Homo sapiens: one gene and its partner. The protein of the gene in region 2 interacts with the protein of the main gene of each other region in a biochemical or structural test. Each region holds a gene or a part of one and is shown on either strand. Other genes may lie near its edges.

The links.
Region 1: the proteins of NSMCE4A (region 2) and PJA1 form a complex in vitro, tested with the Homo sapiens proteins (one study listed by BioGRID).

Annotation. Positions count from the first base shown.
Region 1 is NC_000023.11:69,162,328-69,174,617, forward strand, and holds the start of PJA1 (E3 ubiquitin-protein ligase Praja-1), read right to left. Parts: upstream 3,127-12,290; 5' UTR 3,045-3,126; intron 1,140-3,044; exon of another isoform or gene 912-1,139; coding exon of another isoform or gene 747-911; coding exon 1-746. UniProt on the Homo sapiens protein: Has E2-dependent E3 ubiquitin-protein ligase activity. Ubiquitinates MAGED1 antigen leading to its subsequent degradation by proteasome. May be involved in protein sorting.
Region 2 is NC_000010.11:121,961,522-121,973,386, forward strand, and holds part of NSMCE4A (non-structural maintenance of chromosomes element 4 homolog A), read right to left. Parts: intron 9,549-11,865; coding exon 9,418-9,548; intron 6,286-9,417; coding exon 6,134-6,285; intron 3,865-6,133; coding exon 3,765-3,864; intron 1,808-3,764; coding exon 1,717-1,807; intron 587-1,716; coding exon of another isoform or gene 480-586; exon of another isoform or gene 232-479; intron 1-231. UniProt on the Homo sapiens protein: Component of the SMC5-SMC6 complex, a complex involved in DNA double-strand breaks by homologous recombination. The complex may promote sister chromatid homologous recombination by recruiting the SMC1-SMC3 cohesin complex to double-strand breaks.

The DNA of each region.
Region 1 (12,290 bases), on a different chromosome or scaffold from region 2:
AGGCCATCCGAGTGGCCCTCATTGTCATTGGCGGTATCCCTCCACCTGGAAGTACTGTGTGGCATATCGTCATCATCATCAGTATCAAAAAAAATTTTTGGTTTCACGCAGTTTGGACTTGCCAGGTTTCTGATTTTGGGCCTGACCACAGGTTCCTCTGCACTCTTTGAGGTGTTTTCCCCACCACCACAAATACTCACAGGAGCCCTGCTGGGACGTGCAGGTAAATTTTGCTCCCTTCTCTCCCTCTCCGAGCTGTCACCTTTTGTAGCCAGCTTGCCTTCAGAAGACGACTGTGAGGCCACACTACTTTGTGGCAGGAAGTCAGCTCTGCTAGCTGAGCATCTTGCTGCAGGGACTGGGTCTAACTTGTCTCGCTCCTCTCTCACATCACGGCTAAAACTAGAGAAATGTGGAGGTGGCCCAGCCAAAGACCTTGCCCCTTTCTCTGGGTCATACAGCTTATCATCTTTAAACTTGCCAGTTTTCCCTCTCACTGGCGGTCGCTCAACAGGCCCAGCCCCCTCCTCCTCACTATCATCTGCCCCATAAGAGTCAATATGTCCATAGGCCATTCCTCTTCTGCTACCCGAAGCTCTGTACTCTCTTGGCGGATACCTGGAATAGTCCTCATTATCAATATTCAGGTTGGTTCCCGAACTCTCGCTGTCGTCCCAACTACGACGAGTAGTGGAAAATGGCGATCGGCTCCTCTTGGTGGTTTGACTGGGGGCTGATCTGTGCATTGGGACTTCGGAGTTCGTCTTTCTCTGGCTGGCAATCCTTTCCCGCTGGCTCGTGGGTGGCCTGAAACTGACATAAGCATGCCTTCTTCCATACCTCCTACCTGTATTGGACTGATACCCTCCTGTTGGATTGGGCCATACAGGCTTGCTAGATTCCTGACCCATCACTCTGACTTAGGAGGGTTTCCAATACAGCTGGGGCTCGGGTAGGAGGGCTCCTGCTCCCTGCACACGTTTTTGAGATGGGAAAGTAAAATCAGTTTAGAATAAAGGAGCAGGGAGATTTATTTTCACTTCAGCAGGCAGGTAACAGAAAGAATAAGGGGCCTTTAAAATTAGTTTCACTTTCTTCTAAGGCCTGGAGTAGCATTCCAGTGACTGTCAGGTGTAGACCTGGAACACATTTTTAATGTTGGCAAAATGATTACAAGACTGGGTTTGCAGGAAAGCCAGACTTAGAGGAGAATCTGACGGAAGGTTGGGGGGTGACTGGACGCTTGGAAGGTGGGTGAAGTACTGTGGAATTGTGCAACGTGGGGAAAGGAAAGACTGCTATAGTTTTTTTTATGGGGTGTCTGCATTTTTCTGAGTGCTGCAGACATACAGGAGAAATGCAAATTGGAATAGAGTGGAAAATACAGATCGCCGTGTGTGCACGAGTGCCTATGTGTCTGTCTATCAAGAGGAGAGGGACAGGTGGAAGGGGACCAGTAATCCTGCAACAGAGGGATGTTTACGTTTGTAGGGGGAAAGGGTATGAGTGTTAGAATGAGACCCATTCTGGATGTGGGTATGAAAATGACAGGCATGGGTGGGGTGGCTTTGGAGGAGAGGGGTGCGTGTATGTATGAGGAAAGGGAAGGTGTTTGTGTGTGTAGCTGTATGTGAGGCAGCTGAAACTACAGAAGGATGCCCATGTTTATGCGTATGTCACAGGCAGAGGAGTGTATGGTTGGCAATGGAGAGGAGTGTCTGAGAGTTTGTGTGTGTGTATGTTAGTCAAAATGGGAGGCAACAATGGAGAAATGTCAGTGTGAGCAAATGCAGCAGGCACAAATGGAAGCGGGGGTGGGGGGTGCGCAGCACTGGAGAGGGATGTGCTTGAGGTGGATGGAACAGAGGCAGGCAATCAAAGAATGATGCCTGCCTGTGTGGATATGGCAAGCAGGGAGGCAGGTTGTGTCCCCGTAGAAGGATTTATGTGAGTGCGAGTGTGTGCACCTCAGGGACCAGCAAAAGAGAGCTGTGTCTGACACACGTGGCAGACAGAGCAATAGAGGAGAGCATTTGAGAAGGGGGTATGAATGAGCACATGTGGCTACATATGTATGTCACTGGCCAGCGATAGAAGGATGTCCTTATGTGTGTATATGACAGGAAGGAAGAAGGAGGGCAGCCGGAGGGGGTGTGTGAATAGGCATGTGTTCGCGAGAGCACGCAGAGGCCGAGCAGGGAGGGGGCCGGTGCTAGAGGTGTGTATGTGGTAGGCGGATAGAGGAGGGGGAAGGCATGGGAGGGTGTGAGGGTGTGAGGGTGTGTGAGAGGGTGTGTGCTGCGTGTGCCTGCGCATGCGCGGGGGAGGGGAAGCACTGGAACCTTGAGGATGGAGGGGCAAGGAGGGGGCTGCAATGGAAGGCTTCTGTGCGGGGGCGCGTGCTCGCGACACACGGGGGGTGGGGGGTAGGGGGGACGCAATGTCATAAAAAGAGGTGGGAAAAGGCCATCAGCTCAAACGGGAGACCCCAACCGATGTGGCAGGGGAGAGGGAAAATGAAAGAAAAGGGCGTGCGTGGGTCTAGTTTTCCCTGAGAATAATTATTTTTTCCTTCCAATTTTTTCCCTGGGAACAGTATTTTTACCTAAAAATCTTAACCATTTACCATTTGGCAAAACAACAGCAAAATATGGGAAGAAAGGCCACGGAGTGCTCCGCAAAGGGGCCGAGGAGGGAAGAAGGAAGGAGAGGGGAGGAGAGGCAGGGAGAAGTGGGAGAGGGCCGCGACCACCACTGCCCTCCCAATAGCGATGAAAGCCACTCGAGTGGGGACCGCGCCACACCAAAGGGGTTCCGGCAGCGGAAGATGTGGCCCCAGAACAGGCCGATGGAGGACATGGGCCTCACTCTGCAGTCAGGTCCCGCGTCCGCCCCACCCCTTCCCGAGGGGCGAACCTGAAAAGCAGTTCCCAGGAACCCCCCAAAATCCTCGCCCCCGTGCCCGGCCACTCGCCCCGCGCCCGGCCACTCGCGCCACCGCCAGCGCCCGGATGAATCGAGGAAACAATCAGCCTTTCACTCACCAAGTCCAGAAAGCCACACGCTTTTCAGAGAAGCAGAGCTCTCGGATCTCCGACCGCCACGACCGCCAGAGCCGCTGCTCCCGGTCCCGAGCTCCTCCCCCGCCAGACAGCAGCGGGGCGGGCGGCGACTGCGGCGGCGGAAGTGATTGTGAAGTCAGCTGGAGCCCGCCTCCTTGATGTGGCGGGGGCGGCAGCTGCTCTCCACAAATCAGGGTGGGCCCGAAAGCATTATTTCATCTTAAATGATGAAATCGTCAAGGATACAGAAAAGGACAGCGAAAAATGTCACAAACACCCAGCTTTAACTAATGTTAAACATTTAGCTATATTGCCTTCTGGTTTTTTAATAAATAAAATAAAATCTGCAAATTCTTTCTGATTAAGTCCAATGTGAGAGTAATTACGTTACTACATCACATCCTATGTTACGTGTTATGGTTGTACCGAAAGTATTAAAACTGTGAAACCATATTTAGGGTTGCAGTAAGCTTAAATTTTTTTTAACCTGATGGTTAAAGCAAATTGAAGCTGTTTATGTTGAATTTGTTGCTGCTAATCACAAAACCAAGCTTCTCTGTCCAAGAGATCATAGGACACAACACAGGTTCATATTCTGTTATTGCATTGCAGTTAAAAATATTGTAGTTACGCCTTTTGGATTTATACCATTTTACTGAATTCTGAAGTCTTTAAATTGCGCTTTATAATGGAACTCTAGTATTTACAGCCAATGTAAACATTTCCCATGTTCACAACAGTAGCAAAGTTTTGTTCTTACTGGAAACAAAATGCATAATAGAACAAAAATCTTAGGGGTAACAACATAATAGAAATAAAATGTATAACTTTCAAACCATTAAAGTAATAATATGTGGAACAAAGAGAAAAACTCATTCTTAACAAAGGTCAAGAAATGTTGCTGGGGGGGTACAAAAAAAAGGATGCAAAAAGAAAACAAAAATGCAGGAATCCAAATATATCAGCATGCATTATGGGTTAACATCTCCTAATAAAAACCAAACTCTTATTTTGAGCATTTTGTTTTTAAAAGCTAAGTTATATTCTATTTATGTGAGTTTCACCTAAAGCAGAAATAGGAATAAAAAATATATGAGAGTAAAATACTAGCAGAAAAAAGGGAGAGAGGGAATGAGGGAAGGAAAGAAGCAAAAAAAAAAAAAAGGAAGGAAAGGAAGGAGGAAACAAACTCGTAACAATATCAATATCCTAAACATCGAGAACTCAAAGTAAAAAGAACTAAAGAGAACAAAACAGGTTGCTTTATTCACTGAGAAAGATATGACAAGCTGGTGGTGTGTGCCTGTAGTCCCAACTACTTAGGAGGCTGAAGCAGGAGGATTGTGTGAGCCCAGGAGGTTGAGGCTGAAGTGAGTGAAGATCACGCCACTGCACTCCAGCCTGGACAACCAAGCAAGATGCCATCTCAAAATGATGATGATAATAATAACAATAATAGAACTTCATTGGTGAGAAATCTGAAACTATCAAATTTTTTAATGGAGATACATTTTCATCTAGCAATTCTACTTCTAGTCAATTGCTCTATTGTGTGTTCTATTGAGACACACAAATGGAGAAAGATATGTGAATAGGAGTGTAGCAAGATAATGCAAACAACTTTAATTCTCCTCAACAAATAAATTGTTTAAATTTATTTAAACATGTTGCATGGTGGCTCATGTACAGACATGGTGGTTGACACCTGTAATCGCAGCACTTTGGGAGACCAAGGCAGGAGGATTGCTTGAGCCCAGGAGTTGAGACCAGCCTGGACAATATGGTGAAACCCCATCTCTACAAAAAAAACGTAAAAATTTCCCTGGCGCAATGGTACGTGCCTGTAGTCCCAGCTACTTGGGAGGCTGAGGTGGGAGAATCACTTGAGCCCAGGAGGTTGAGGCTGCAGTGAGCCAAGATTGCGCCACTGTGATCCAGCCTGGGCAATAGTCAGACCCTGTCTCAAAAAAAAAAAAAAAAAAAAGAAAGAAAGAAAGAAGGCAAGTATATATGTATATATGTACTGGTCTAATATAAATATATTAAGTGAAAAAAGCATGTTGCAGAACAGTGCATTTTAAAAAAAAACATATGATAGTCACAAAAATTTATGTGCCAAACAATGTAGTTTCAAAATATATAAAGCAAATACTGTTAGAAATATAAAGAGAGATCAGGAAGTCTGCAATTATAGTGGGAAACTTCACCTCATTTCTTATGGTATAGATAAATCAAATAGACTGCAAAATAAATAACGATATGAGGAAATGGGACAGTACAATATACCGAATGTATATGTATTTTTGTTTTTTTGAGACAGAGTCTTGCTCTGTCATCCAGGCTGGAGTACAGTGGTAAAATCTTGGCTCACTGCAACCTCCACCTCCCGAGTTCAAGCAATCTCCTGCCTCAGCCTCCTGAGTTGCTGGGACTGCAGGTGTGCACCACCACACCCAGCTAGTTTTTGTATTTTTTAGTGGAAATGGGGTTTCACCATGTTGACCAGGCTGGTCTCGAATTCCTGATCTCAAGCAATCCACCTGCATCGGTATCCCAAAGTGCTGGAGTTACAAGCGTGAGCCACTGTGCCCAGCTTGTATATGTATTTTTGGACTCAAGAGAGGATACATTTTCTTTATAAAAATATTTTTAAATATGTCAACTATACAGAAAAGTAGAGTATAAAATACACATTTTAATGCACCTGTCACATGGATTGAGCAAATTTTATTTTCTCCAGATCCTCAGATCCTTCTGTTTTTGAAACAAAATAGTACAGATGAAGCCCTCACTTCATCCTATTCACTTGACCTCTCTCTTGAAAATAAGCCTTATTTGGAAGTTGATGTGCTGTCGTCTTGTTCATGTTTGTGTGTGTGTGTATGTGTATATATATATATATATATATATATATGTGTGTGTATATATATGTATGTATATATGTGTATATATGTATATGTGCATATAAGTGTATGTATACATATATATACAGATATATAATATATATTTACATATATATATCTGTGACCAATACACAATTTTGTTTCATGTATTTAAATTATACAGATGGTATCATTATAAATATATACTTTTGCAACTTAGATTTTCACTCTGTTGTTTTTTGAAACTCAGCAATTTTGATACCTGTAGATCTGAGTCATGCATTTTAACTGCTGAATATTACTGTATCAATTATCCAATACATTACTATAACATATTATTGTATGGACTTCTTTTGCATAAGTTATCCAATTTATCTCTTTTCCTACTGTTTCTGTTTTGTGCAATTATAAGTGAGGATTCAATGAACATCCTAGTGCATGGCTCCTTGTGCCTACATAGAAGAGTTTCTTCAGGGCAGAGCTTCCCAACTGAGTTATAAGTGTTCTGATATATTGATCCCCTTAGCTCTCCAGGAAGGTAGCTTTGGCTTCAGCAGCTGCCCCTAGAGACTGTTGCCTCTGGCCAAGAGCACACTGTCTGTTTATTCCAGTGAGCTGATAGCATTTTAAATATATGTTCTGATGTGAAAAGGATTGAAATAAATTGCTCTAGTATGGAAACATTGAAGTAGAATTTCTTGGTCAAAGAGTATGTAGTAGGTATCTATTGCTGTGTAACAAATTTCCCTAAAACATAGCAGCTAAAAACAACAAACATTTATCATATCAGTTTCTATGGGTCTGGAATCCAGGCATGGCTTAGTTAGGTGCCTCTGACTCAAACTTTCTTACGAGGTTGCACCCAAGCTCTCATCTAGGGTTGCAGTCTCATTTGAAGGCTCAAGTAGGGTAAGAGGTCCACTTCCAAGCTCTTTTACATGGTTGTTGACAGGCCAAAGAAGACCCATTTCTAAGCTAACTCATGTGGCTGTTGTCAGACTTTGATTCCTTGTCGTGTGGACCTATCCGTAGGCTTCCTAAGTCTCCTCACAGCATGGTAGCTGGAGAGAGAGAAAGAGAGAGAGAGAGAGAGAGAGAGATCCCAAGAGGAAAGATGCAGTCTTTTTATAACTTAATCTCAGAAGTGAGATCTCATCACTTTTGCCATATCCTATTCATTAAAAACAAGCCATGGAATTTGTTCATTTTATCTAAGTAATCAAATTTGTGGCCATAGAGTTGTTCATAATACTTTTTATTATCCTTTTAATGTCCATGAGGTCAGTAGCAATGGCTCCTCTCTAATTTCTGATATGAGTAATTTTGTTTACTCTCTTTTTTTCTGGGTCAGTCTGGCTACAAGCTTCTCAATCTTGTTGACCTTTTCAAAGAACCAGCTTTTGATTGTATTGCTTTTTCTCTACTATTGTTCTGTTTTCAATTTCATTGATTCCTGTTTTAATTTTTATTGCATTTTTTTCTGCTTACTTTGGGCTGAATTTGCTGTTTTATTTTCTAGTTTCCTAAGATGGAAGCTTAGATGATTTATTTAAGGTATTTCTTATTTTCTAATGTATGCATTCAATGCTACAAATTTCCCTCTAAGCACCACTTTTGCTGCATCCCACAAATTTTGGTAATTTATCTCAAAATATTTTAAAATTTATCTTGACACTTCTTCTCTAACCCATGTTTTCTTTAGAAGTATATTGTTTAATCCCCAAATATTATGTGATTTTCCAGCTACCATTCTTCTATTGATTCCTAATTCAATTTCATTGTGGTCTGAAAGCATACTTTGTATAATGTCTATTCTTTTAAATTTGTTGAGGCATGTTTCATGGCCCAGGATGTAGTCAATCTTGGTGAATGTTCAATGTGAGCTTGAAAAGAATGTGTATTCTGCTTTTGTTGGATGAAGTTGTCTATAAATGTCAATTAGATCCAGTTGATTGATGGTGCTATTCAGTTCAACTATATCTTTACTGATTTTCTGCCTGCTGGATCTGTCAATTACTGATTGAGTGGTGTTGAAGTCTCCAACTATAATTGTGGATTCATCTATTTTTTCTTGAAGTCCTATCAGTTTTTGACTCATGTATTTTGATGCTCTGTTGTTAGGCACACACACATTAAAGATTGTTGTGTCTTCTTGGAGAACTGACTCCTCTTTCATTACATAACACCCCTATTTATCCCTAATAATTTTCTTTGTTCTGAAATCTGCTGTGTCTGCAATTAACATAGCTACTCTGGCTTTCTTTTGATTACTGTTAGTATGGTATATATTTCTGAATCCCTTTACTTTTAGTTTGTCTTTAGAAAGTTGGTTTCATGTAGATAACATATAGTTAAATCTTGTTTTTAAAATCCATTCTGACAGTCTCTTTTAATTGGTGCATTTAGATCATTCACATTTAAAGTGATTATTGATATAGTTGGATTAATATTTACCATACTTGTAACTATTCCCTATTTGATGCCCTTGCTGTTTTTTTTTTTTTTTTTTTTTTGAGATGGAATCTTGCTCTGTCACCCAGGCTGGAGTGCAGTGGTGCGATCTCAGCTCACTGCAAACTCCACCTCCCAGGTTCAAGTGGTTCTCCAGCCTCCTGAGTAGCTGGGATTACAGGCGCCCACCACACCTGGGTAATTTTTGTATTTTTTTAGTAGAGACAGGGTTTCACCATGTTGCCCAGGCTGGTGTTGAACTCCTGACCTCAGGTGATCCACCCACCTTGGCCTCCCAAAGTGCTGGGATTACAGGTGTGAGCCACGATGTTCAGCCCTTTTTTTTTTTTTTTTTTGAGATAGGGTCTCACTCTGTCACTCAGACTGGATTGCAGTGGTGCGATGTCAGCTCACTGCAGCCTTGTCTCCCAGGCTCAAGTAATCCTCCCACCTCAGCCTCCTGAGTAGCTGGGACTACAGGCACACACCACCATGCTCAGCTAACTTTTTAACTTTTTTGTAGAGATGAGGCCTCCCTATATTTCCCAGGCTGGTCTGGAACTCCTGGGATCAAGCGATCCTCCCACCTCACCTCCCAAAGTGCTGGGATTACAGGCACGAACCACTGCACCCAGTTTCTCTGATTTTAATTAAGCATTTTATATGTTCAATTTTCTCTCCTCTCTTAGCATATTAATTTTACTTTTTATTTTTACTTTTTTAGTGATTACTCTAAAGCTTGCAATATACATTTACAACTAGTCCAAGTTCACTTTTAAATAACACTATAACTCCTCATGAATAGGGCAGGCACCTTATAACATAATATTTCCAATTCCTTCCTTCAATCTCTTATTACAGAAATGTAATAAGCATTTCTGTCATTCATTTCATTAGTATATATACTATAATCATCCAACATATTGTTACTATTATTTTTGAACAAGCTGTTATTAGATCAGTTAGTAACAAGAAAAACAAAATATTTTATTTTATTTATGCTGTCACTTATTTCTGTTTTAATGTTCTTCCTTTCTTTACGTAGATTCATATTTCTAACCAGTATTATTTTTCTTCTCTCTGAAGAACCTCTTTTAACATTTCTTGCAAGGCAGTTCCTAGAAGTGACATCATAACATGTTTGCCACATTCTATTTATTAAAGGTGAGTTACTAAGCCTAACCCACACTCAATGGGAGGAGATTACCCAAGAGCATGCATGGGGGCAGGAGGAGGACATCATGAGGCATCATGGGGGCAGGAGGAGGTTGGAGCATTTCAACCTGAATAAATATTCCCAATCTGTTTTCCAAAATGGTTGTAACAATTCACATTTTCACCTGAAGTTTATTCACATCTCTGCTTTTGGTGAGTATTTCACCAGATCCTCAGCACTCTTGATATAGGCTTTAAAATTGTTGCCAATTAAAATTGTTGCCAATCTGATGAGTATGGAACACTGGCTTTGCTTTTCCCTGAATTACTAGAGAAGTTAAGCATCCTTTTACAGTTTTTGACCATATAGATCTCTTCTCTGAAATGCTTGTTCATATCTTTTGTCCATGTTTCTACTGGGGTTGTTTTTATGGTTATTGATTTCTAGGAGTTCTTTGTATATTCTGAATACCAGATGTCAGCTGTATTTGTACCGTTGCAAATATCTTCTCATAGTCAGAATTTTCTTTAAATGTAAATATGAAATTTTAAAAGCACTTAAAATAAACCATGGGAGAATGTTTTTTCATAATCCTAGAATGGAGAAGACCTTTGTAAGTTCAATGAACTATAGAAGAGAAAAAAAAAGAGAAAGAGAAAAGTTTCAACTACATCAAAAAAAATATTCTGGCCAGCAAAAAATAAACAATTCTAAGTAAAGTAAAAGACAAATGCAGAGCCAGGCACAGTGGCTCGCCTTGACAACTTGAAGCCAGGAGTTCAAGACCAGCTTAGGCAACATAGCAAGACCCCATTTCAATTAAATATTTGCTGCTAATTGCATAAAGGACTAATTTCCCAAATACATGAAGAGCTCCTATAAATCAATAAAAGACCAACAAACCAATTTTAACATGAGCAAAGGATACCAATATACATTTTATTAGAAAGGAAATACAAATGGCATTTCAACATTTGAGAAGACGTTCAAGCTCAGTGATAAAAATAAAATGGGATGTGATTTCACCCATCAGACTGAGCAATGAGAGACAGTTTGATAAACACTGTTGTTGAAGGTGTGGAGCCACAGGCAGGCACCCTTCAACATTGCCGGTGGTAGGGTGAGGTTACTTGGTAGTTAGAGCCTCTGTAGTCAGCAAGTTGGCAATAGCTATCAAATTACTAATGCACATACTTTTTGGCCCAGAAATTCTACTTCTAGGAATTTGCTTACAGATATACTTGCACATGATTGAAGTGAAATATGTGCTGTTATATTCCTTACATCACAGTATTGTTTTTAATAGCAAAAAACTAGAACGAACCTAAACGTTTATCAAGAGGGAAATGAATAGTTGTGATGGTGGAAGACCTACTGTAACACAGCTAAGATGCAGAATCTAATGCTAGTTGTATCAGAAGGGATAAATCTAGAAATCAATATTGAATGCAAAAAGTGAGTTGTAAGAGGGTATGTATATTACCATAGTATTTATATATGTTTTAAAAGCACATAGAGGGCATTGTAGGTTCAAGATTGTTCTATCTTCTCAGAGAATTATTTGATCACTAATAAATGACGTAATGACGTATCTCTAATAAGACTTTTGGTATAAAGGTCAATCCTGTCAGCAATTCTACTTTCCAGTTTGTTTGTTTGTTTGTTTGTTTGTTTGTTTGTTTTGAGATGGAGTCTCGCTCTGTCGCCCAGGCAGGAGTGCAGCAGCATGATCTCGACTCACTGCAACCTCCGCCTCCTGGGTTCAGGCGATTCTCCTGCCTCAGCCTCTCAAGTAGCTGGGAATACAGGCTCATGCCACCATGCCAGGCTAATTTTTGTATTTTTAGTAGAGACACGGTTTTGCCATGTTGGCCAGGCTGGTCTTGAACTCCTGACCTCAAGTGATCTGCCTGCCTGGGCCTCCCAAAGTGCTGGAATTACAGGAGTGAGCAACCAGGCCGGCCTCCAGTTTTCTTTTGATAAGATTTTTTTCTGGTATATTTTTACTCATCTTTTAAAAATATTTTTAAGGTAATATCTTTATAATTACACACAAATATTTATGTAATTTTAGACACAGTCATAAAAGAAATCCTACGTGCATGCTTTACTAAAACTATAGTCTTTTCTGAGCTTGGGTGGCCGGAGGAGTGGTAGCAGCCAGCCAGCCTAGCTTCGCGAAGGCTCTCCGCGCGCCGCGGCCCACAGGCACCCGGCACGCGCCCTCCCCGCCGCCAGGATTCCCAAGAGGAAGGTCTGCTCCGCTGAAGGGGCCGCCAAGGAAGAGCCCAAGAGGAGATCTGCGCGATTGTCAGCTAAACCTCCTGCAAAAGTGGAAGCAAAGCCGAAAAAGGCTTTGCAAAGGACAAATCTTCAGACAAAAAAGTGCAAACAAAACGGAAAAGGGGAGCAAAGGGAAGACAGGCCAAAGTGGCTAACCAACAAACTAAAGAAGATTTACCTGCAGAAAACAGGGAAAGGAAAACTGAGGAGAGTCCAGCCTCTGATGAAGCAGGAGCCAAGACTGATTAGCACCATATACAATGTCTTATCAGTGGTCCCTGTCTCCCTTCTTGTACAATCCAGAGGAACATTTTTATCAACTATTTTGTAAATGCAAGTTTTTTAGTAGCTCTAGAAACATTTTTAAGAAGGAGGGAATCACACCTTATCCCATTTTTAAGTGTAAATGCTTTTTTTTTAAGAGTTGAAATCGTTTGTTGGTTGTTTATTTTTTGG
Region 2 (11,865 bases):
AGACAAAAAGAGAAAAAAAAATTGATTTTTGCTTGTCATTAATATCAGTACACTCTAGCGTTAGCCAGAGACAAAGAAAGGATGTGTACTCATTCCTGCTGCAGGAGTGCAAATCAATCCAACCCTTCTGGAGGCCAATTTGGCATCTCTACTAAAAACATGTATGCCCACTGACCTGGAAACCACCTCTAAGAAGCTGTGCTACAGAAATACAAGTGTAACTGCACAAAATTACATACTAAGATTTTTTACTTCAGCAATTTATACAAGAGTAAAATGCTATAAAGAACTTAATCATCCAGCTGGGCATGGCACTCACACCTGTAATCCCAGCACTTTGGGAGGCCGATGCTGGCAGATCACCTGAGGTCAGGGGTTCAAGACTAGCTTGGCCAACATGGCGAAACAATGTCTCTACTAAAAATACAGAAAAAAAATTAGCCAGATGTGGTGGCGCGTGCGCCTGTAATCCCAGCTACTCAGGAGGCTGAGGCAGGAGAATTGCTTGAATCCAGGAGGTGGAGGTTGCAGTGAGTTGAGATGGTGCCACTGCATTCCAGTCTGGGCGAAAGAGTGAGACTGTCTCCTAAAAAAAAAAAAAAAAAATAGGAACTTGGCCGGGCGCGGTGGCTCATGCCTGTAATCCCAGCACTTTGGGAGGCCGAGGTGGGTGGATCACAAGGTCAGGAGATCAAGACCATCCTGGCTAACACGGTGAAACCCAGGTTCTACTAAAAGTACAAAAGAATTAGCCAGGCGTGGTGGCGGGTGCCTGTAGTCCCAGCTACTTGGGAGGCTGAGGCAGGAGAATGGCGTGAACCCAGGAGGGAGAGGTTGCAGTGAGCCAAGATCGCGCCACTGCACTCCAGCCTGGGCGACAGAGCGAGACTCTGTCTCAAAAAAAAAAAAAAGGAACTTAATCATCCATTAATGGAGGATCTGTTAAATATATTTACAGTACAGCCATATAATGGGAATCAGTGAACAAAACAAGGGAGATCTATATGAAATGATGTGGAAGAATGTCCACATGGAAAAGTCACGTAGCAGAAGAATGTGCATATTATGATTAGCTTGGAAAAAAAGAAAAAAACAAACTTTTTTTTTTCAGATGTAGTTTCGCTCTTGTTGCCCAGGCTAGAGTGCAATGGCGTGATCTTGGCTCACCGCAACCTCTGTCTCCCGGGTTCAAGCGATTCTCCTGCCTCAGCCTCCCAAGTAGCTGGGATTACAGGAATGCACTACCACACCCGGTTAATTTTGTATTTTTAGTAGAGATGAGGTTTCTCCATGTTGGTCAGGCGGGTATCGAACTCCCAACCTCAGCCTCCCAAAGTGCTGGGATTACAGGTGTGAGCCACCACGCCCGGCCAAAACAAACTATTTAGGTAGGTGTGTATAAAACTGATAAAATAATCTGAAAATATACACATTACATTTTATAATGAGGGGAGGTGGAACAGCTACTTTTGACATTTCTCACTTGAATGGCATATTTCATTTTGTAACAAAAAAAATCCCCATCTTTTAAAGATAAAAATGAAAACGTTAACTTCAAAGTTTTCACATGAAATTTCTAAAGGGGAGAAGAATCCTCATAAAATGCATATGTATTTATTCAAATATTACATACAGCTGAAATTGCCTTTTAAATACAAGTAACCTCAGTGAACAGATAAATACAAATTGCTCCACTTTGAATGGTGTTACACTTACGATCTTCTCGAAAATATGTCTGCAACAATCCCAAGATTCTTTCTACTTCTTTCTCTGTTGCTTCTTGATGAGATTCTTCCATTCTTCTTAACTGAAAAAAGTCATTATCAAGCTGACAGACCTACTTACTGGCCTATTAACGTTTTCTTCTCTCTTGCACACCCAAACTCCTTTTCTTCTCTCTTGCACACCCGAACTCTTTTTTTTTTTTGAGACAGGGTCTTGCTTTGCCACCCAGGCTAGAGTGCAGTTGCATGATCTCGGCTCACTGTAACCTCAGACTCCTGTGCTCAAGGGATCCTACCACCTCAGCTTCTTGAGTAGCTGGCACTAGAAGCGTGCACCACTACACCTGGCTAATTTTTTTTTTTTTAATTCATTCTACCTTGTCTAAGACACCTGGCTAATTAAAAAAAATTTTTTTAGATATGGGGTCTTGCTGACCATCCTGGCTAACACGGTGAAACCCCATCTCTACTAAAAATACAAAAACTTAGCCAGGTGTGGTGACAGGCGCCTGTACTCCCAGCTACTCAGGAGGCTGAGGCAGGAGAATGGCATGAACCCGGGAGGCGGAGCTTGCAGTGAGCCGACATCGCGCCTGTAATCCCTGCGCTGTAGGAGGCTGAGGCAGGTGGATCACAAGGTCAGGAGTTCGAGACCAGCCTGGCCATTATGGTGAAACCGTCTCTATTAAAAAACACCAAAATTAGCCGGGCATGGTGGTGCCTGCCTGTAATCCCAGCTACTTGGGAGGCTGAGGCAGGAGAATGGCTTGAACCCAGCAGGCGGAGGTTGCAGTGAGCCGAGATCGCGCCACTGCACTCCAGCCCGGGTGATAGGGCAAGACTCTGTCTCAAAAAAAATTATGGTTTAAAAAAAAACAGATTTTCTGGTTTCAGTAACTTTTTTTTTTTTTTTTTGAGATGGAGTCTTGCTCTGTGGCCCAGGCTGGAGTGCAGTGGTGCCATCTCGGCTCACTGCAACCTCCGCTTCCCAGGTTCAAGCAATTCTCCTACCTCAGCCTCCAGAGTAGCTGGGATTAGAGGCACCCACCACCACATCTGGCTAATTTTTTGTACTTTTTAGTAGAGACAGGGTTTCACCATGTTGGCCAGGCTGGTTTCTAACTCCTGACCTCAGGTGGATCTGCCCGCCTTGGCCTCCCAAAGTGCTGGGATTACAGGCGTAAGCCACCACACTCGGGCAACCTTTGTTTTTTTTGAGACGGACTCTCGCTCTGTCGCCCAGGCTGGAGTACAGTGGCATGATCTCGGCTCAGTGCAACCTCTGCCTCCTAGATTCCTAATTCTCCTGCGTCAGCCTCCCGAATAGCCCGGACTACAGGCACCTGCCACCATACCTAGCTAATTTCTGTATTTTTAGTAGAGACGGGGTTTCCCCGTATTGGCCGGGCTGGTCTCGAACTCCTGACCTTGTGATCTGCCCGCCTCGGCCTCCCAAAGTGCTGGGATTACAGGCGTAAGCCACTGTGCCTGGCCTCAGTAACATTTTCATATCAATTTCTTAATAGAATAGTAACATTACCAGATTAACCATTTTCAGGTTGAACATAAAATAGCAAAATACAAAAGGGCGGTTTAGAAACAGTGGTTCTCGAGTGGGTGTGACTTTCCCCCCACCTCCCCAGGGAACATTTGTTGTCACATGTAGACATTTTTGGTTGTCACAACTCAGGGGTCGGGGGGGCTATTAGCATATAACAGGTAGAGGCTGGGGATGCCGCTAAGCATCCTACAATGCGCAGGACAGCTCCCCAAACCAACATTATCCAGCCGTAAATGTTGACAGTGCTGAGGTTGACCCTGGCTTCGGAGAACTGATCAAAACTAGAGAAATGAGTTAAAACAAAGACAAGCAGCCAATCCAATAAAATGCTTAAAGGCTTAAATAAAATGATTATTTAAGTGACAAAACCTGGCTCCAGACCCGCACACTTAGAAAAAATGGCCAAATTGCATGCACATTATTTTAACAGCTATTTTAACTTTAATGTGTTTTTTTAAAAGCAACATTTTAAAACAAACCTGGGCAGGCATTGCCCTCTCCTCTTGTATCACAGGAACTTTTCTTGGACGATCAACTCGTGGCTTTGGCACAGGGCACTCTCCGTATATTGAACCCAACCTAATGAAAAGTATGCTTTCATTTATTTTTTTTGCCTGTTGTTTGTTAAACAAACTAACTTTACTAACTAAAAGTAGTTTGCATGGTATAGTCAAATTCAGACCAGACATCAGTGATATACAAGCTGACATCAGAGTAAGACTCTTGATAAGGTTTGTGACAGCCTTTCTGCCTTCTTTGTATTTCTAAAAGAACTCCTAGGAGCTTTACTCAACCACAGATACCTCCTCAGACACCTACATACTGCCCTGTAAAGTAGGCCAGTGAATATGCCTGTGACATCTTCCCACCACCCAACCTATTGTTTTGCAAAGCCAACTTCTAAGAGCAGGGGAAGGATGAACATGTATGTGGGGAAGCTCCAGTGGGGTCAGAAGACTTTGATCTGGGGAGGCCAAGGCAGAGGCTCCCAGCCCAGGACTACAGAACACATCTGTCTTAGGATAACAGGGCAAGTCACAGCCATGGGATTCCTTTTCCTTCTGGATTCTGCCCTCATGCAGACTTGGGTTACAGTAATAGATGTAAGTCTGCATCATGTAGAGATCAAAGCCCCAAGAATAAGGCTCATGTGGTCCCTACCCTTGAGGAGACAAAAATATACGATGTAGATGGACAGCTGCATTATGCACACAGATCCATTTCAATATAACATGGTGGGCTACTCTGGGAACACTCCTGCTCCACAAGGAGCAGTATAAAAAAATAAATTAATCAAATTTTAAAAAAGCAACATGGTAGATCCTGGGCGCTTAGAGAGTACTGCTCAAGTGCTATGAGAACACTTGGGCAGAGATATCTACCCAGACATGGGAGTGACGTGGTTGAGAAATCTGATCCTACACTGCTAACACCTCTGTCTGGAGAAGTTGCTGGAGGCTTCCAAGATGGGGCCTGTGGGATAAACAAACTTTACCGAATGGAAAAGATGAAAAGGAATTGGAGGCCAAGAGAACAGCAAGTACAAAGACACAGAGTTTTAAGTACTTCATTGTGGCTGGAAATTGGGCTGGATGATGAGATAAAGTTTAAGGCTTTATCTTTATAACCTAGGATTTATGAGTTTAGTACAATAGCAAAAAACAAAGATTTAGACTTTATCCTAAGATGAAGAAGTTTGGACTACATCCTATTAAATAGAACATACACAAATGGCTCTGGGCACCTGAGTTACCTGAAGTCTTATTAAAAATAGATGCCAGACCCCACACCACACTACTACATTGGCATCTCCAAGGCCTTCTACCCGAGCTACTATCAATCTCAATGGTTTTTAGAAAGACAAATTAGAAAAGACAAAAGCCCAGGAGCTATACCACTTAAAGAAGGACTGAACAACTCAGATGGCTACCCTAAAGTATTTACTGGGCAACAAAACCAGTATACTTGAAGGTCCTCTTAGAGAAGAGCCAGTAAGAGCTGTTCTTAATTTCTCCATAGGACCATGCCAGGAAGTTAAGACAGAAGCCAACTTCATTCAAATATAAAGAAATCTTTTTTTTAAATCAGAGTTCTATCTAAAAAATGAACTGGACAGTTTATGTGGCAGTGACAAGTAATCTTCAAATACAAGTCAGTGGTCATCTAACAGGGTATTATAATAAATGTCACTTTAGACGTTGGGAGACTCATAAGATACCCTCAGTAGGAGGTATCATCCTCCTATATGATAAGGATTTTAAAGATGATAAACCCAGAGTCTCATGAGCTAGAAGCAAAGGAGCCAGGAGAGCACTGGTAAAGAGGTTCTGGCCTTTTCTGCTAAAGCAGAATGAGAGATCCTTTAAGGTTCCATCCACATCTAGAGTTTATGGACTTTTTTTTCTTTTTTGAGACAGGGTCTCACTGTCAGCCAGGCCGGAGTGCAATGGCGCAATCTCAGCTCACTGCAATCTCTGCCTCCCAGGCTCAAGTGATCCTCCCACCTCAGCCTCCCAAGTAGCCAGGACCACAGGCATGGGCCACTACAGCGGGCTAATTTTTTGTATTTTTGGTAGAGATGGGTTCTCGCCATGTTGCCCAGGCTGATCTTGAATTCCTGAGCTCAGATGATCTACCTGCATCCACCTGCCAAAGTGCCGGGATTACAGGCATGAGCCACCACACCCGGCCTAGTGTTTATGAACTTTCATATCAAAGTTTCAAAAGTCTCCAAACAACGGCATCATGACTGTCACCTCTACAATACCAAATAATCTTTGTCCCTACAAGAAAAAGCAATTTAAGGTTCACAAATAACTGGTCTGTTGGATTTTTAAAATAATCTTACAGAAAGTGGAATGTATGGGTTTTATTAAAGGTGTTTTCTGCTGTTCTGCCTGTTATCTTCCAGGAGTCATAGACTATGAATTCAAAATCAGGACTATCTTCATCACGGATGAGTTCTTCAGCTTCTAGCGGATTTACACCCATATGTGTGAGCTACAAAAATGAAGGAAAACAAAAAACCCAGTTAAGCCACATGCAATCATTTTCCACATCCAATAATCCGCATCACTCAACCTTTAAGAGGCCAGACGCAAAGCCAGCTTTCAGTGTCTTAACATGCTGGCTAAATTTCTTACTGTGAAGATAACTTTACAGTTAAAGTCCTGCTTCCAAAGCTACCTTCTTTTTGGCAGAAAACATTCCTCAATGTACTTAAAACCTTTGGGTGAGAAAGTGAAATGATTTAGACCAGTGGTTCTCAACCTGGGTATACGTGCCCACAGGGGTCTTCTGGCAATACCTGGAGACATTTGTGGGTGTCACAACTGATATGCTGCTGGCATATACTGGGTAGAGGCCATGGAGGCTGTTGAATATCATATAATGCACAGTAACAGCCCCCAAAACAAAGACATGCCCAGCTCAAAATGCCAATCCATAGTGCCAGTGCTGAGAAACCCTGCTGTAGCCCACTGGCAGCCAGAAGTATTTAGGTATGCCAGAACTCAGCCCCCTGGGATTTTTTGTATCACCAATAGTTCGTGTATTAGTAAAGCTGCACTAACATATAAATATAAAATTAAATCCCAAATCAAAAGCTTCAAGACAGCACAAGGAAGTTCAGCTGGTTTTCAGATTTTAATTTTTTGCCAACCTCCTACAAATCTCTATTCAGCTTGTATCTCAGTATATCCAGAGAGCAGTGGCCCGGCATCACTGAGAGAATGGCTCATCTTAAAATTGCCTTCCTGGGAAGAGTTGGCGGAAGTCAAATAATTCTCTCATCTCAAACTGTCTTACAGAAAATGTGTTATATTGAATTTACTTTTATGAAAGTACATTTTTATTACATTATACTGTAAAATGCCTAGAAGTTATCCAATTACGATGGCAATATCATATATAAACAATAATCACAAAACCCTCAGGGAGCTTAACCCTATTAAAGGCAATCAGACTTTAAAGAAAAGAAAGGCTACAAGAGCCTGGTCAGAGCGCTATGGCCAGCTCTTCTCCATTCCCTTGCCGCCCGAACTACCACTGCACCCTTGTAGGCAGACGTGGCAGTTTTGGTCTGTTTAACTGACAGAGAAATCCACCAATCTTTCCTTATAGTGTCTATATTTGATGCTATACATACGAAAGTCTTCTCCACCCAGAGACTGGACAACTATTAATTTAAGGTTTTATATTTAATGCTTTAAGACTTCCAGAATTTATTTTGATATGTTATTTAAAGTACAGAGCTTGGCCGGGCACGGTGGCTCATGCCTGTAATCCCAGCACTTTGGGAAGTCCAGGCGGGTGGATCACGAAGTCAGGAGTTCGAGGCCAGCCTGGCCAACATGGCGAAACCCCACCTCTACTAAAAATTAGCCAGGCGTGGGGACAGGCACCTGTAATGCCAGCTTCTTGGGAGGCTGAGGCAGGAGAATCGCTTGAACCCAGGAGGTGGAGGTTGCGGTGAGCTGAGATCGTGCCACTGCACTCCAGCCTGGGCAACACTCCAGCATGGGCAACACTCCAGCCTGGGCAACAAGAGCAAGACTCTGTCTCAAAAAATAAAAAAATAGAGCTTAACCTGATAAAGTAATTTTTAAAGAAATACCCAATACATGGTTACTTTATTGACCTCTATATTACAGTGCACTTTCCTAAGTGCATTATGTTTCACAATAAAAAAAAGTTAAAAAAAAAAAAAAAAAAGGAAAAGGTTTGAAAAACAAACTGGAAATAATCTGGTGCCTCATGCCTTTACAAAAAAATTATCTGATCAGATCTCATAGTACTAAATTATTTTAATAACCATTTAACATAAACATCCAGTTAGAAATGCAATATTCATACTGAGGTGCAGCTATCTGTGCTAGGACAGAGGTTGGCTCAGATTGACAGATTGACTGATTGATTGATTGATTTTGAGGTGCAGTCTCACTCTGTAGCCCAGGCTGGAGTGCAGTGGCGCGATCTCGGCTCACTGCAACTTCTGCCTCCTGGGTTCAAGGGATTATCCTGCCTTAGCCTCCCGAGTAGCTGGGATTACAGGCGCCTGCCACCACACCCAGCTAATTTTTCTATTTTTAGTAGAGACGGGCTTTCACCATGGTGGCCAGGCTGGTCTGAAACTTCTGACCTCAGGTGATCCACCCGCCTCAGCCTCCCAAAGTGCTGGGATTACAGGCGTGAGCCACTGCCCCCAGCCAGAATAGAATTTTTTAAAAAGACAACAAAGTGAGATACAAGGTCAGTCTCTGTGTGCTTTTTCTTTTTTGGTAAATTCATCAAGGAACAGTTTTAGAATTGCAGGTAACCACTATTCAAACTTGTCAAGAGACAAAGAAAGGTGAATAAAACATAAAACCAAAAAAGCAAAACCTGGCTGGGCTAGGTGGCTCACGGCTGTAATCCCAGCACTTTGGGAAGCCAAGGCGGGCAGATCACGAGATCAGGAGATCCAGACCATCCTGGCTAACATGATGAAACCCCGTCTCTACTAAAAATACAAAAAATTAGCCGGGCGTGGTGGCAGGCGCCTGTAGTCCCAGCTACTTGGGAGGCTGAGACAGGAGAATGGCGTGAACCCAGGAGGCAGAGCTTGCAGTGAGCCGAGATCACGCCACTGCACTCCAGCCTGGGCGACAGAGCGAGACTCTGTCTCAAAGGAAAAAAAAAAAAAAAAAAAAAAGCAAAACCCAATCATATTCACATGGTTTTGAAATATTCTCAAAGACAGACCAAAACATGCCCTCTCGCCAGGCCTAACTCAATTCCAGCTGAGCTCTGCCATCGCAGAGTGGGCTTTTGTCCAGCCCAGGACAAAGGTCTGAGGTCACTGAGAATGATCTAGAACACCAGTGAACAGAGGAAAAATGGCCATTGGCAAATGACCATAGCACCCAGCATCTTAAGACAGAATGCTACGAGATTTTTACTCCAAGCCCCCACCCAAGATTCCACCACATGGTTCTACTTTCGTCTGTTTAAATTGGTAAGATCTCTACAGAGGAATCTGAGACCAAAAAAGAAGAATGAAGTGAAATCATCTGCATATGGATATGAGCACAGTAAATAATTATAATATATAACAGAACATTTTTTATTCAGAGTCTGTAGCTTTGAACTTACTAGAGTTTCAACATATCTTAACATGTCAAAGGAGCTCAGGTCTGAGCGCAGCTGCTTTGCTTTCTCTTTGCCCAAATCTGAAGCCAAAACAAGAAAGTGGGCATCCAGGACTGCTTCTCTTGCTCGGGACACTATTCAAAAAAGAAAGAAAATATTCACATTACAAAATACACATTATCCATAGACTTTTTCCCTACATTTCCAACTACTTACCAGGATTTCCCACTGGACTAAAAAAAAAAAAAAATCTCAATAGGCAACTGACACATCTCCTTCTAAAACGTGCTCCTGGCCAGGTGCGGTGGCTCAAGCCTGTAATCCCAGCACTTTGGGAGGCCAAGGCGGGCGGATCACGAGGTCAGGAGATCGAGACCATCCTGGCTAACACGGTGAAACCCCAGCTCTACTAAAAATACAAAAAATTAGCAGGGCGTGGTGGCGGGCGCCTGTAGTCCCAGCTACTTGGGAGGCTGAGGCAGAATGGCGTGAACCCGGGAGGCAGAGCTTGCAGTAAGCCAAGATCGCGCCACTGCACTCCAGCCTGGGTGTCAGAGCAAGAGGCTGTCTCAAAACAAAAACAAAAACAAAAAAAAACTTTCTCCTGTGCCCAACTCACCAAAATCTCTAATGAAAGCTGACCAGTCTTCCTAAAAGCCAGCTTTCTGTCTAGTTCTCCTACTGTTAGCTGAATCACAATCTCTTAAATAACTCCAGTTGAGCAAAACCCGTCATGTCTAATACTCACTTTTCCCTCCATCCTAATCACGATGATCATGTGTGCTGACGTAAGGAAAATCAAATTCCCACTACATGTAGGGCCCTGTGCTTGGCATGGTGGTTTGTGAACAGCAATAGGTAAGCTGCTAAGCAATAGGTAAGTTGCTAAAGTTGCTAACCAAAATCATGGCATGTGCTAGGCTGGCACTAGGAGGCTCATGCCTCTGTATGGCTTCACAGGCAACCCCAGCAAAGCCACCCAAATGAACAGTCTACAGGTAGCAGGTAGTGACCCGAGGACGGATACTCAAAAAAGGCTTGACAGAGGACATGGGATTTAAGAAAAGCTATGGAAAAAAAAGATTTAAATTAATGCAGAAACAGGCTGGGCACAGCAGCTCATGCCTGTAATCCCTACACTTTGGGAAGCCGAGGCAGGCGGATCACTTTGAGCTCCAAAGTTTGAGACCAGCCTGGGCAACGTGGTGAAACCCCATCTCTACTAAAGAATCAAAAATTAGCTGGGCATGGTGGTGCACACCTGTAATCCCAGCTACTCGGGTGGCTGAAGCTGGAGAATAGCTTTAACCTGGGGGGGGCAGAGGTTGCAGTGAGCCAAGATCATGCCACTGCACTCCAGCCTGGGCGACAGGTGTAGGTGTTCCCAGACTATTTTTCATACTCTCTGTTGCCTGCAGGGTCTGATTAAGCAACCCCCTCAGCCCCGCTGTTTCCTTTTGTTGATCCCTTCTTTATCTCCCATGAGTATCCTGTGCCTGCCTGCCCCACTCCCTTCCCCTTTCATTTATTTATTTATTTTACAAACTGAGACCATCAAATCCATGAATGCCAGCATCTGTTGTTTGCTGAGCAACTCCTAGGGCTCCAATGAGTGAATAATTTTGCTCTAAAATATTGCTTTAAATACTGGAAATAGCTGAGGGGGGAATGATGTGGGGATAAAGAACTGACTAGATGCACAGTAAATATCAAGGGAGTAATTGAGTCAAGTCAAGCAAGACTAACAGTAAGGAGACTGGGAGTCCAGGCTGCGAAGGGAAGACAAAACTTAAGAGGGTAGTAGAGGGATTTAACCAGGTGAAGGAGAAACACCCGGTTCCTGAAGGTTTTGATGAGAGTTAGCAAATGCGGTAGACTAAGATGGGGAATGGTAAGGAGGCTGTGGTCAAAGAAATTGGAGAGCATATATAAAGTGATAAAAGGAGACATTTAAAGAACTAGTCATCCTCAGCAATGACTAAAAATATACGTTCTAGTCCTTTAAGAATATGAGGAACCAGCCGGGGGCGGTGGCTCATGCCTGTAATCCCAGCACTGTGGGAGGCGGAGGCAGGTGGATTACCTGAGGTCAGGAGTTCGAGACCAGCCTGGCCAACATGGCGAAACCCGTCTCTACTAAAAATACAAAAATTAGCTGGGTGTGATGGAGCACACCTGTAATCCCAGCTACTCGGGACGCTGAGGTAGGAGAATTGCTTGAACCTGGGAGGTGGAGGTTGCAGTGAGCCGAGATTGTGCTACTGCACTCCAGCCTGGGCAACAGAGACTCCATCTCAAACCTCAAAAAAAAAAAAAAAAAGGATATATTTGGCTGCATTCTCCCCTATGTTCCCACAGACCCGTCAGAGAGGGCTGGAGGGGACAGTGGTCTGGGTAGTAGTCCTGTGGCTCTATGACCAAGTACCCACATCAGGGAGTACCCCTCTGTCA